Homo sapiens: one gene and its partner. The protein of the gene in region 1 interacts with the protein of each later gene in a biochemical or structural test. Each region holds a gene or a part of one and is shown on either strand. Other genes may lie near its edges. The genes, in order: IREB2 and OTUD3.

Region 1 (7,277 bases):
TCCCAGAGTGCTGGGATTACAGGTGTGAGCCACCGCGCCCGGCCCCAGATTTTGTATATGCAGTACAATTGGTGTTGTGGTAGTTTAATTGCATACTGATCTACTAGTCTTGATTTTAGCAAATTTTCATGTTTCGTACATTTAAATGTGCTTGTTTTAAAATCTTTATTTCTTGGGGTTGAGGGTGTATTATACTATTAAAATAAATTGCATTAAAATAAATACGAATATACTTACTCTGCTTTAGAAAGTAATGCTTCAATTGGAATCTGTCGTAAGGAATTAATTCTAATTCCTTGTTCTTTCTCTTTCTCATTTCTTAGGTGATCCAGATTAATCTGAATTCAATAGTTCCATCTGTTAGTGGTCCAAAAAGACCTCAGGATAGAGTTGCTGTGACAGATATGAAAAGCGATTTCCAGGCTTGCTTAAATGAAAAGGTAGGTTACTTTATTCTTATCCGTGTTTTTCAACCCGCTTTGTGCTAAGTAGTAAAGAACCAACAAGGTGACCCATAAACTCAATTCACTGCTATGTTTTATATATTATGGCACACACCAGCAGCCCCCTTATTTTCCTTCTGTCTAATGTGCAAGTCAGTCATTAGGTAAGCTTGTTCCCAGTTCCATTGTGAGGATCAGAGATTGATTGTGTCTATTTAAATTAAAATTATATACAATTTAAAATTGAGTTTCTTAGTCACAGTAGTCTCATTTTTAAATGCTGAATACATATGGGTCTTGTATTGATGAACAGCATAGATAATTGAATAGTTACATCATCACAGAAACTTTTTTTTTTTTTTTTGAGACAGAGTCTCACTTTGTTGCCCAAGCTGGAGTGCAGTGGCACAATCTCGGCTCACTGCAACCTCCCCCCTCCCGGGCTCAAGCGATTCTCCTGCCTCAGCCCCCAAAGTAGTTGGAATTACAGGAGTCTACCATCATTCCTGGGTAATTTTTGTATTTTTAGTAGAGACAGGGTTTCACCATGTTGGCCAGACTGGTCTTCAACTCCTGACCTCAAGTGATCTGCCCACCTCAGCCTCCCAACAGTGCTGGGATTATAGCCATGAGCCACCGCACCTGGCCTACAGTCATAAAATTTGGTAAATGTGACCGAGTAGCAAGTGGTCTCTGGCTTTTGAGGGTTTGTATTTTCTGTCTGAGAATCACAGTTTTAGTCTTGTCACTTTCTCTATTCTGAGATCTCTAGTACTTGGCTTTCCTTTCAGAGCCTTTCTTTTTATGATTTCTTGACTTTTTGTTCAGAAAGTGTTAAACTTGTACAAAAACAAAATAGTCCACTGAATTGCCATGTACCTGTCAATTAGCTTCAATAATTAGCAACTCATAGCCAATCTTGTTTCAGCTATGCTACACTCACACACATAGGATCCCTTTGGAGGAAATCTTCGGGGTCATTTTAACAGAAAAAAATTTCTGCCATCTCTTGAGAATTACTATAAACAGGGATGATTAAGAACAACAAAGCCAAATGAGATCTGGATTCTGGGTGGTAGGCTGGACTCGCTTAGTAGATAAAAGTTTTGCTTGTGAACATCACCAGACTCCTGTCGTGCCCATGCAGATTTATGCTTCAGCTGAATTACAACTACTGAATGTTATGGGCCTTTAGCATCACTCACAAAAAGGATTTTTAATGTTAAATCATCAAATGTCCGGTATCTGCTATGTTTTCTGCCAGTCTTTTATTCTGTACATACCCAGAATATTTAGTTTATATTTTTGTGGAAATTTGTATAGGTTGGATTTAAAGGCTTCCAAATTGCAGCTGAAAAACAAAAGGATATTGTCTCCATTCATTATGAAGGAAGTGAATATAAGCTGTCTCATGGATCAGTGGTCATTGCTGCAGTTATCAGTTGTACCAATAATTGCAATCCATCTGTCATGCTTGCTGCAGGTGGGTTGTGGTTTATGGCCATACTTTTTCTTTTTCCTTAATTATTGTTGGCTTTTCTGTTATTGTAACTTTGTTTCTTAGATGATGCATGAGTGTCTACATTTGATATTGAGAGACTTTCTAGTATTTTAGTTAGGTCTTAAGGAGCCTGAGTTTGATTTATGTTGTTTTTATTACACCGAAGGTAAATTTACTGTTTACTATAACTTACCTGTCAATTAATTTTAGGTTGTATCTGCTTCTCTTGTTAATTTAGAACTATAGTTAATTAGCAGGTATTTCTTGATTATCTAGAAGTTAACCATAACAGTGTGGTAGATTTCATTAAAAGTTATAAAAGTAGTAAAAGATCATTGTCTTGGCAAGGATTGTAAATGAAATTAATTTGTATGCCCATTGGAACAATTCCTTAGTTGTATAAAACCATGTATAATGTGTTACATTGCTCTTATTGTAATTATGACTTTAAAATGGTTTGCTTTAGAAAAAAGAAGAAAGAGAAAAAATGGTTTTGTTAACATGTACTTATATATGTGCACCTTTTGTTTACTCTGTGTGAATGATGTCAGCCTGTATCTTAATAATTTTCAACATAAAGGCTGTAATTTTAAATTTGTTGTAAATGAAGCAAATCAGTAGAATAAAGTGGACAAAATAATGACAGTAAGTTTATGAATTCATACTTTAATCTGTTAAATAAATTACTTCTCACTTTTTACTTTAATATGGGTGAGAGAGGGAAAGAAACATTGCCATAATAAATCATTGTTTGTTGGCTGTGCAGGTCTTTTGGCTAAAAAGGCTGTTGAAGCTGGTCTGCGTGTTAAACCTTATATAAGAACAAGTTTATCTCCAGGCAGTGGGATGGTTACACATTACCTCAGTTCAAGTGGAGTATTACCATATCTAAGTAAGCTTGGGTAAGTAACAGCTATCGCACTTCATATTGATATTGGTGTTCAGTAGGTACTGAAGCTGCTTGTTTGTGCCTTTCATATACAAAGAGAAGATAGAAAAAATATGCTTTAGTTTTACTTGCTACCTTGCCATTACCATACAATTTTTGATGCCTTATCACTCAGGAAACACTTATTGGGCATATCAAATGAGCAAAGCACCAGGTTGGATACACAGAAGTAGGAGATGTGGTCTTAGCTTCAAGATACTTAGTTGGGAAGACAAGACAAACAAGTACAACCAAATAACAGTTACAGTGTAAGAAACGATACCAAGTATGCACAATTTCTGTGAGTTGTGTAGGTCAGTTCAAAAAAGAAAGAAATCTTATAGTTTGCATTTATTAACTGAAAATTGTCTTAATTTTAGTTTTATGAGGTTATTGGGTCTATAATACATAAGTTTAAATTGTCCCTGAACTTTGGAGAAAGTAACTTATGTTTTTTGGGCTGGGCGCGGTGGCTCACGCCTGTAATCCCAGCACTTGGGGAGGCCGAGGCAGGCAAATCATGAGGCCAGGAGTTTGAGACCAGCCTGGCCAATATGGTGAAACCCCGTCTCCACAAAAAATACCAAAATTAGCCAGGCGTGGTGACGCACACCCATAGTCCCAGCTACTCAGGAGGCTGAGGCAGAAGAATTGCTTTAACCTGGGAAGCGGAGGTTGCAGTGAACCCAGATCGTGCCGCTGCACTCCAGCCTGGGCGACAGAGCGAGACTCCATCTCAAAAAGAAAAAAAAAAAAGTAACCTATGTTTTTTATGTAATCCAAAACAATTGATGCTAGTTGTGTGGGGATTTTTTGGTTTTGAGACAGTGTCTTGCTCTATTGCCCACACTGGAGTGCAGTGGTGCAATCACAGCTCATTGCAGCCTCGACCTCCTAGGCTCAATCAGTCTTCCTACCTCAGCCTCCTGAGTGGCTGGGACCGCAGGTGTGCACCACCACACCCAGCTAATTTTTATGTTTTTAGCAGAGACAGAGTTTCACTGTGTTGGCCAGGCTCGTCTCAAACTTGTTCCCTTAAGTGATCGGCTCGTCTTGGCCCCCGAAAGTGTTGGGATTACAGGCCTGAGCCACCACACCCAGCCTAGTTATATTTTCGGTGTGTATTTTGGAACATATGAGTCATCAATTCCATTGCAAAACTGATAAATTTTAGACTTTTTTGCTTTTAGAATAGCATCTGAAAGTAATTTAGAGGACTGTGCCTGTAATCTTTTGGTTATATTATCTTGGATTTATTGTCAGAGACTCTTCTTGGGTTTAACTGGTTGATAATTGAGAGATTACTCCTATCAGAGTGCCCAATTACAATCAATGCCTCTTTTGGGACCTTTGGTCAGGTTATTATAGCCAGGTCCTCTTTACATTTTAAACTCTTGGATGGAAGTACAGTATCAATTATTTTAAAAGGTCATGTTATATTCCTAGCAAGTAGTATTTGGGGGAATTCTCTTGTACAGTGATAAGTGCTATTAAGGCTCTTCAAAGGTTTGCATTCACCTTTGAGACCAGCCTGAGCATTTTTATTTTTTATTTTACAAAAAATAAAAAAATTAGCTGGGCCTGGTGGCGAGCGCCTGTGGCCCCAGCTACTTAGGAGGCCAAGGAGCAGGATTGCTTGAGCCCAGGAGGTTAAGGCTGCAGTGAGCTGGTTCAAATAGCATGCCTGAGAGTTAGACTTGATTGCTCAGAATCTTCTGAGGTGAATATATTGATGAAGGTTAATCCATGTGTCATGAATAGTCTTTTAAGTAATCTTATTACAGTGATAGAAATACAAGATAAGACTTGTCCTTTCTCTATAAATGTTGTGATGTGCTATTCAGTCACTTTTTTTTTGAAATGCAGATTTGAAATCGTTGGCTATGGATGTTCAATTTGTGTGGGAAATACAGCACCCTTATCAGACGCAGTTTTAAATGCAGTAAAACAGGTAAAATGTGTGGATTGGCAAGACATCTAAATGATTTTCTTAACTATGTTTTGTTACTAAATTATAGAAAATATATATTGATGTGTTTATATTTCTGTAAACTCTGCACCTCTTGGCAATAGTAACCTGTGAATCTTTAAATGATTCAATGAATCATTTGTAGATCCTTGAAATAATTCCTTCATAATACAAGGAATTGATTTAGTTTATTTGCAAGATGCATAGTTCTATATTTAAAAATTAGTAATATGTTTTTTGGTTAATCTCGCCCTCAGACTTTAAGATTGCTTATATATGATTATCCAGATTTGTACCATCTCTAGAATTGAATTTATTTGTTTGTGTGTTTGTGTTTTTTTCAGGGTGATTTGGTTACCTGTGGAATTTTATCTGGAAACAAAAATTTTGAAGGTCGTCTTTGTGATTGTGTTCGTGCCAATTATCTTGCCTCTCCACCCTTAGTGGTAGCTTATGCCATAGCAGGCACAGTGAATATAGATTTCCAGACAGAACCTTTAGGTATCTTTTCCTTTATGTATATGTATACCTACACATACTTTTCCCAATGGAAGTCGTTATATTTTTGAAATGTTTCTTAGACCATCTATTCTTTGAATTATTTCAGGAAGACGTATGATAATGTATAGTTATTAATTTCTGTGTTTATGTGAAGAAAATAAAATGTACAGGTAATTAGTTCTTCCAGCCGCTTAAGCCTGAAGCACCCTGTTGAATCATTTACTTGATTTCCATGATATGTCTTTGAAAAGGTATGAACATTTTCAGAGTTATTTTTTTACTGAGTATCATGTTCAAAAATTTTAACCAGGTACTGACCCCACCGGCAAGAACATTTACCTGCATGATATTTGGCCTAGTCGAGAAGAAGTTCATCGAGTAGAGGAAGAACATGTTATACTATCCATGTTTAAAGCATTAAAAGATAAAATAGAAGTAAGAGTCTTATGTGTTTCTTAAATAGTTTAATCAATTTGCAGTGTTCTTTTATTTCATATATCTTCTGAATAGAATAAAAATTAAAATTACATTATTTTGAATACAGTTTTTAATGTGTAATAGTAAGTTTGTATCTGGAATCTGTAGTTAAAAAGAAAATGGCGGCTGGGCACAGTGGCTCACGCCTGTAATCCCGACACTTTGGGAGGCTGAAGCAGGTTGATCACGTGAGGTCCGGAGCTCAAGACCAGCCTGACCAACATGGAGAAACCGCATCTCTACTAAAAATACAAAACAATTAGCCAGGCTTGGTGGCGCATGCCTGTAATCCCAGCTACTCAGGAGGCTGAGGCAGGAGAATCACTTGAACCTGGGAGGCGGAGGTTGCGGTGATCCGAGATCGCGCCACTGCACTCCAGCCTGGGCAACAAGAGTGCAACTCTGTCTCAAAAAAAAAAAAAAAAGAAAGAAAATGTCTTAGAGGATCAGAATTCATTAGTGTTGATTGGATGATCTGTGCAGCAAACCACCATGGCACACATTTACCTATGTAACAAACCTGCACATCCCGCATATGTACCCCAGAAGTTAAAATAACAGTTGAGGGGGGAAAAGAAAGAATTGATTAGGTGTTCAGAATACATCATTGAACAAAACACAAAATTCTCCTGGGGAGAGGCAAATAAGCTGTAAAGAGAATAATTAGCTAAATTATGCAATATTTATTATTTTTTATTATTTATTTTTTGGTGTTTTTTGGGAGATGGCACCCCACTCTGTCACCCAGGCTGGAGTGCAGTGGCCTGAAGCAGCTCACTGCAGCCTTAACCTCCTGGACTCAAGCAATCCTGCTCCTCAGCCTCCTGAGTAGCTGGGGCCACAGGCGCTCACCATCAGGCCCAGCTAATTTTTTATTTTTTGTAAAATAAAAAATAAAAAATGCTCAGGCTGGTCTCAAACTCCTGGACTCAAGTGATCCGCCCACCTCAGCCTCCCAAAGTGTTGGGTTTACAGGCGTGAGCCACTGTGCCTGGCCTAAGAAATGGTGAGATTTTTGGCTGTAGTTTGAAGGCGTTGATGTGGAACAAATACATTGAAAAAGCAGAGGTTTTTCTCCATTATAACATTCTTAGACATTAACAGCATACCTCATACATGCTTAATCTCTCTGTAGCAACATATAGAAATCTTTCTAAATTCTTTAACTTTTTTGGACTCTGTGAAGTCTTTATGTTCTGTTTATATTGAAACTTGCCCCTTGGAGTGTTCCTGAACATCTGGTATGCTAGAATTTGAGGAGCAAATTTTTAATCATTCTGTCCAAAAACATCATGATTTTTTAGAACACACTGTTTTGGCTGGGCATGGTGGCTAATGCCTATAATCCCAACCCTCAGGGAGGCCAAGGCCCACGTATCGCTTGAGCTCAGGAGTTTAAGACCAGCCTGGGCAAAAATAAAAATTTAAAATTTTTTAAAAAAAAGAAAAGAATACACT
Region 2 (7,277 bases), on another chromosome or scaffold:
GAATCACACAGAGAAGATCACTTGAGAGATTGTGGGAGAATCTGCTTGCAGAAGCTAGAATATTCTTGACTTTCATCCAGAAAACCATCTAGTCCTTTTTTGTGTCAAGGCAACAGGGAGCCAATTCAGAAGGCTGCTTGTTGAATACAAAATGAAGAATGGGAGAATGGGAGTCTCAAGGTCAAAATCATGACATGGTGAGGTCTGCCGAGCCAGAGCCCTTGTGTGGATGGGGCCCCTGCTGGACGCAATGAAGGACTCCCTTCGCTCTGGTTTCCTGTGGACCCTTCTAGGTGAGTTGTGCCCCCAGATGGTACTGTCTGTGCCTTGGCAGGGAGCCTCCTCCTTGAATGGGGTCAAACAATCTTGAGAGTTCTAGAGGAGCCCAAAGTGGCCGCTGACAGACAACTGCTACATATTTAAACAGTTTCAAACTTATCAAGAGATGCTCTCAGATATCAGGCAGAAATCTTAAGTGTGTAGTCCTTAAGAATGACCCTGCCATTGTGTTTGGTGGCTGCATTTAGCTGCACTAAAGCAAAAATCAGCTGTTCTAAGCTTAGTCAGATCCCAAAGTACTATTATACACCTAGAATACTCAATCCAGCACACGCAAACACGCAAAGCTTCCACACAAAGGTCTCCAAAAAGGACATTTCCCAGCACACTCAGCCTCCTTGCATTCACTCAAACGGTGGTCAGATACTGATAAAAACAACTTAAAACTTTGTTTTTAAACTAGAATTTATTGGTATACAAAACTCCATTTCATAGATAAAGTGGCACATCTTTGCAGCTTCTATTGCACCAAGTATCGAAGATTAAAAACACAAAAAAAGAAACATTTGGTTTTGAAAACACTGCAAATAGCCAAGTACAGTACTTTGGTAAATAAAAAATAAAATGGTTCAGATGAACACAATCCGTGGAAAGAAACAATCTAGGGGGAAGGAACTATGGACATCAGACAATGGTCACAATTCTCACCATCGAGCTCCATAGATAAGGCAAGACTTGCTAAGTCTATGGATCACGACCCCATGGAGGTCTTAAGTATCTCCAGACTGAAGCTAGAACAAGTATAGTGCAATTAGAAAGAGAGAAGGCCCCTCCTCCACGGATACATCCACCCCTCTGTAAAGGAGACTGACGCATGCCAACACTTCTACATGGGAAAGGGGAGCCCCCGGGTGTGACGTCTGACTCCTGGCCCTTTTCTTCTTTCCTCTGAGCTTAGTGCTGGTGGAGGCTCTGGAAGAGGCACTGGGGAGGCCAAGGGCCCTTCCTACTATGAAAAATGAACTGTAAGAGTGGGAAAATGTGTGAAGCCTCTTACCAGTACTGCTCGAGGGACCTGCCAGGGATCAAACCGCCAGCTGAGGTCTGTGGCTGAGCTCACATGATTGTCATGGATGGCTGGCAGCCTGCCGCAGGCTGACACGCCAAGGATGAGAGCCAGGCCACAGAGAGTCTGTCCGGCAATCGCCGCCAGCCGCAAGGACTGGCAGTGAGCAGCAGCAGCTCTGGATCACGGCTATGACCTGCTTAGAATAAATTCCCTATGCAAAAGTTCGTAGTTTTACAGAAATAGATTCTTTACACTGGTACCAGCCCCTTCTCAAGTAATTCTGCAAGGATGCTAAACATTTTCATGGAACCACAAAACAGTCCTAACGAGGACAGTAAAGAGAGGGACTCTACAAAGCAGCTGCTTCAAAGACATAGGTCAGAGCCTGAGGTTTTAAAGGAATTTCACCTTGGGAGAGAACTTCCAGGCCAACCACAAGGCACCGCTCTTTCCGGAGGTCCCCATCAGCGGTGTGCGGTAAGCTCTGCATCCTAAGTGCACGTGGTGACTGGTGCTCCGTGTTCTCTCCACGTTACAAATATGACTGTCCCCTTTCTAATATGCGATGGCAGACGTCGTAATTTATGCCATCTAGATCTTCAAATCAATGATGTCATTAAAAAAATACAATTTACTGGCCGGGCAGGGTTGCTCACACCCGTAATCCTAGCACTTTGGGAGGCTGAGGCGGGCAGATCACAAGGTCAGGAGTTTGAGACCAGCCTGGCTAACATGGTGAAACCCCGTCTCTACTAAAAATACAAAAATTAGCCAAGCATGGTGGCACACACCTGTAATCCCAGCTACTCAGGAGGCTGAGGCAGGAGAATCGCTTGAACCCGGGAGGTGGAGGTTGCAGTGAGCCGAGATTGCCCCACCACACTCCAGCCTGGGCAACAAAGCAAGACTCTGTCTCAAAAAAAAAAAAAAAAAAATTTACTTTAGAGCCAGGAAAACATAACTTATAAAAAGTCCATTATTAAATCACCTCAGAACAACTGTCAAAGGCCCCGGAGTTTTAGCAACACTTGTTCTGAAAGCTGTGAATAATGAGAATGGCAAAACAGAAAAACGGCATCAGACTGAGTCTAAAGATTTAACATGGCTAGACAGAGCCTTGAGGTAAGAAAGTGAAGAGCTACGCATCTACCCAAAACGGGAGTCGAAGAGGGCCACTGACGCAACACATTAAAATCAGGAAGCTCCATTCTCTTCCCCCCGCAGAGATCCTTTTGGTCAGGGTAACTTTTAGTCACCTCTGACTAGGAATCCAAGTTTCCTTCAACTGACTGAATATTTCACAGAGGTAAACTGATAGCATTCTATGCTGACCCAGTAAAACCCAGGCAGAGTCTACAGAGTTTCTCAGAATTAGAGAAATTGCACATTGACTACAGGGACTCACTACTAGTACAGTTCAGCGCTGAAGTCCACCTGATGCTACCTGTGTAATATGTGAGCAACTCCCCGACTGAAGGTGGCCCTCCTCCCACCCCACCCCCGACAATCACATCATTTCACACTGAAGCAGCTCCCTGGGGGAAGCAGGGCAGGCATAATAAATTACCCATGGAGAGGCTCCCTCCCAGCCAGCTCCAGCTGCTCCACAAGGGAGATCCCACTTCCCAAGCCCTCAGAATCAAACTGGCATTGGAAGTGTTTTCAGAGCTTAATAAAGAAACTACAGACAACTTCGACTAACATTTAAAATTCTTTCTGCCACAATTTCTCAACCATACTTTGCTCCTGAAAGTGTATGTTCATTATTATTGAAAAACTAAATACACACATACATTCTAACTTTCTAATATCTCCTAGTGGCAACTACATTATCTAGAAGTTATGGTTCTATGCTGCTTTAATACATCTACCTCTCTAGTTCAAAGCTGTTGCCACTAAAATGGTATTTATTTTGACCTCTAAAAAAAAATATTTTCAAAATCCGTAAAACCTTTATATACCGTTTATAAGAGCAGTAAGCAGCTATGCACCACTGCTCCATCCCCTTTCTCCTGACCACACTACAAGCTACCAAGACAATCTCATGTAACATAAATCTCTGCCAGCCAAGATGTAACACAGAGGTTAAGACACATTCAGTTCCTAATAAAGAGTTCACAGGAGCACCTGTACTAGAGTAACAGCTGCTGACAACAGTCATCCCAGGACTAGACATACTGGGCCTCCACTCGGGCTGCCAGTGAAGGAATTTTCAAGTGCCCACTGAGGCAACTAAGCATGTTGATTCCAACCTTCTCATGTACCCAGTGAGACTGAGGCAGTGAAGTCTAAATTGAAACCATTAGCTAGAAGGTATCACTGAAGTTGGATGCATGTACCCGATTCCTAATAATTAACACACTAAACAGACCAACTGTAACTGAAAAGCTGTGAAACCAGTAGTAAAATTACTAAAGCCGTTTGATTAGTTTTTTAAACCACCATTATTATACTCCAGAAATGCTGAAGCCTATTACCAGAATTAGGTAATTTAAAAAATAAATGTTCCCAATATTCTTTAATAACTTTTTAGCAGCTTCTAAAACTTCTAAAACCCAATAGGGCCCAAGGCCACCTTCATTAACCAAGTAAATAAAGCAATTCTACTACTTCTGACAATAAGTCTCTCTTAAGCTGACTGCTAATCTGAATTTCTGGCATACAATCTTATCTTTCTGAGAGGATCTGGCCTCTGCACTCAAGCAGTACAAAACAGACAGGAAAACATCTTCATTCAGAAACACTCAGCCAGTCAGGAATCTGCCCAGAGTTGAAAACCAAGACAACCATAGATCCTAACGCACTCGATCCCACTTCCTTAGAGTAAGGCAACAGAGATCTTTCATTCGTTTGGAATGAGTAGAGTAACACAGCCTCAAGCTCAGGACTCTGCGACGTGCACAGAAAAAAAATGCTGTGTACTTTTTTTAATCTGCTAAATTTTACAATGTACTGTACCCAGGAAGAAACCTAAACCACAATGTCCTAGGAGCAATTCCAAGAGACTACTGATGCTCCAACTACAAAAAGCCACCAAAGTCAAAAACAAAACCAAAAGATACCAGTGAAACTGAAGAAAGCCAAAGGCCTGGTGATAAAGACAATCTGGCGACTCCAGGGCCTACCAAACATTTTAGTTTTCAATTTGCCTCCGAATTTTTATAATTCTGAAATGCGAGGGGTGGGGAAGATAACTAATAATTTACCTTTCAACTCAGCATCAATTATTTGCCCAAGTATTAGGTCCCAAAAGACAAAGATGATCCAAGATGGGCTGCCTCATACGTTATAGTTCTTAAGTTCACATCCACCTAACTCAGTTTTAGGAAAGACGTCTCTCCACTGCTCAAGTCTGTCTATTTCAGAACTGAAGAGTGATTCGAAGGCCTCAACCAAAGTATGTTCTCTTCTCTGCTGGTCCAACCTAAGTCAACCAACCCTGCTGGTCCAACAACTTCCAGCAGATGCTGGAGTTTTCCCAACTTTGAAATGCCAAACAGGGCTTAAATAAAAAGAAATAAATGTAGCATTTTATAAGATTTAATTTCCACAATACTAAGTTTAGCGACCTATAAGGTCAAGTTACCACGTATCTCTCTGAAGGCATCTAAGTCTACAACAGAAGGGAAGAAAATCGTTATTTAAAATGCGAACATGAAAAACCTTATTCTTCCAGGCTTCTCCTATAAAAACATAATTCTTTAGACTCCTCTTAGGCAAAACCCCAGGAGTTCGTCTCCTGTTACAACTATAGACCCTGCTCTACACACTATCAGAATTCCAGAACTGTATCACAAGCAGTAACATGCCATCTCCCCACTGTCAGGAAACAAATACCAAAAACCCAACACCACTATCAACTTCCCAACAAGGCCAGGCCTAATTAACAGTCAGCTGCATTTATCATATGGCTTGAGTGCAAATGAACTAACAGCACCTGCATCCCATCTGAAATAACATCAGAATCAGGAAGGAGAGAAATGCGGTTAATTTCCATCCTGACTGCAGGCCACAACCCTCACGTAACTTTGGGAAAACAATTCCTGAATTATTTTCTGAGTAACTTGGATTAGAAGTAAATCAAAGCATATTCCTGAGTTGGAGATCATTTATAAGCTACCCTATATATCTGTTTGAGAATGAAAGAGAAACTAAGGAAACTTGTCATTCTGAATTTCTAACAATTATTCTAAACTACTCATGAACAATTACAGCAAAACTCACCCCAAATGTTAAGGAAAGATCCTAGGGTCACTGAAGTCTGATTTTCAGGGCAAATAAAGCCACCACTTAAAAGGTTTTTCCTGACCTAACTATCTGCCCCTAAAACTCAGTATTTTAATTTTGTATTACAGAATATGAATGGCCTCACTGCATTTTCATAAAACACCAACATATCACTAATAAAACTTCGAACAAAAAAAGAGGCAGCTTGAACGAAACTAACTCAGTGTGTGAGCTCATGTGTGGGCTTCGTTGGTTGTGTTGCGTTTTATAAAAGGACGGCCTCACTGGAAAGTCTAGCACACAGCAATCCTTTTCCAGCCGCTTCTTACAACTCCCAAGAGGCCAAAGAGTCAGATGTTGAGAGCGGCGAAGGTCTTCACCAAGGTGACCTGCGTGTTCGCCTCTGCTTCGCTTCTGTTATTGTCCCTGTGGCTACCTCTGCTCTCCAGGGCTTTGTGGCGGTGCCTCTCCTCCTGCCGCTTCTTCTTCTCCATCCACTGCTGTTCTCGCCTCTGTTTGTTTGTGACCTGAGAGAGAAGGCCATGGTGGTGAGTAGGAAGCACGGGGGACTCAAGCTGCCACCTGCTAGAAGGGAGATGGTGGCAAAGGGCACAGATTGCTTTTCAGCAGGAACAGGGAAAACCAATCTAAGACGCCAAAGATGATTTACTGTCCACTGCTGCTCAAATTTGCATTTAAATTTATATTTCCTTGCTGAACTAGCAAACAAAATCAATTCCATTCTTCTCTTAAAGAAACCAGCCCTCATCCAGCAAGAGTTGGTAACAAACAAACGTGTCAGAGAACATTTTTCCCCACATAATTTAATGCCCCAGGTAATTCTGACAAAATCCTCAGAAGCTTATTGCATCTCTGCCTCTGCTGTGGCTTTTTACACTGTGGCATTTTGAGCTCAGAACTTCTTGGTGAAAATCTTTAAAATGATTCCAAATTCAGTAAAATGGAAGATGTCACATACTACTTGTGGGAGTGAAGGGCAGGGAGGGAGATGTACCTTTCTGGGAAGCACGTGACAATTTACCAAAAGCCTTTAAAAGATTCATGTATCCATGACCTTTAACCTGTTCATTCCTCTTCTGGGACTTTATTCAAGAAAATAATGCAAAAACCAAAGATTTATACACAAAGGTGTTCATTGCAGATCATGGCATTTATAAAAAACATGGATAAACATGGGAAGAGCCCACATGTACAGTAATGTTAGGTGGGAAAAGGAGGCTTTTCATTTGTACACTGAGGACAATTTCAGGGTGTATTTCCTTCCAACTGTCACGGCATACACCAAACAGGATAAGTGAGGTCATTCTGCTTCTTGATGTAGCTTTATGCATTCCCCAGATTTTCCACACTACTTTTATAAATCAGAAGGAAAATACAAATAAAATTAATCTCAAGCTACCACCACTGCCACAGAATTACACCTGCCCACCACCTGCCCATTCAACCCCATCTTACATACCTTTGCGAGCTGGTTTTTATTTGCTTTGTTTTCTTCACTAGGGCTGGCCTGTGCCTTATTGTTTTCGGTCCTGCCTTCATTTAAGCCCTGATTTCCAAAGATTCTGGCACCACTGCCACCCTCCTCCCACAAAGGGCCACACTGCTTCAGCACTCGACCACTGGGCTCAAGATTCTCTTCTGCATCTTCCAAAGAAAGACATTTCATTAAAACTGAGAACCT

What was found.
Region 2: the proteins of IREB2 (region 1) and OTUD3 form a complex in vitro, tested with the Homo sapiens proteins (one study listed by BioGRID).

Annotation. Positions count from the first base shown.
Region 1 is NC_000015.10:78,482,995-78,490,271, forward strand, and holds part of IREB2 (iron-responsive element-binding protein 2), read left to right. Parts: intron 1-323; coding exon 324-440; intron 441-1,766; coding exon 1,767-1,926; intron 1,927-2,710; coding exon 2,711-2,846; intron 2,847-4,738; coding exon 4,739-4,823; intron 4,824-5,185; coding exon 5,186-5,342; intron 5,343-5,652; coding exon 5,653-5,777; intron 5,778-7,277. UniProt on the Homo sapiens protein: RNA-binding protein that binds to iron-responsive elements (IRES), which are stem-loop structures found in the 5'-UTR of ferritin, and delta aminolevulinic acid synthase mRNAs, and in the 3'-UTR of transferrin receptor mRNA.
Region 2 is NC_000001.11:19,906,395-19,913,671, reverse strand, and holds the end of OTUD3 (OTU domain-containing protein 3), read right to left. Parts: intron 7,241-7,277; coding exon 7,056-7,240; intron 6,103-7,055; coding exon 5,926-6,102; 3' UTR 727-5,925; downstream 1-726.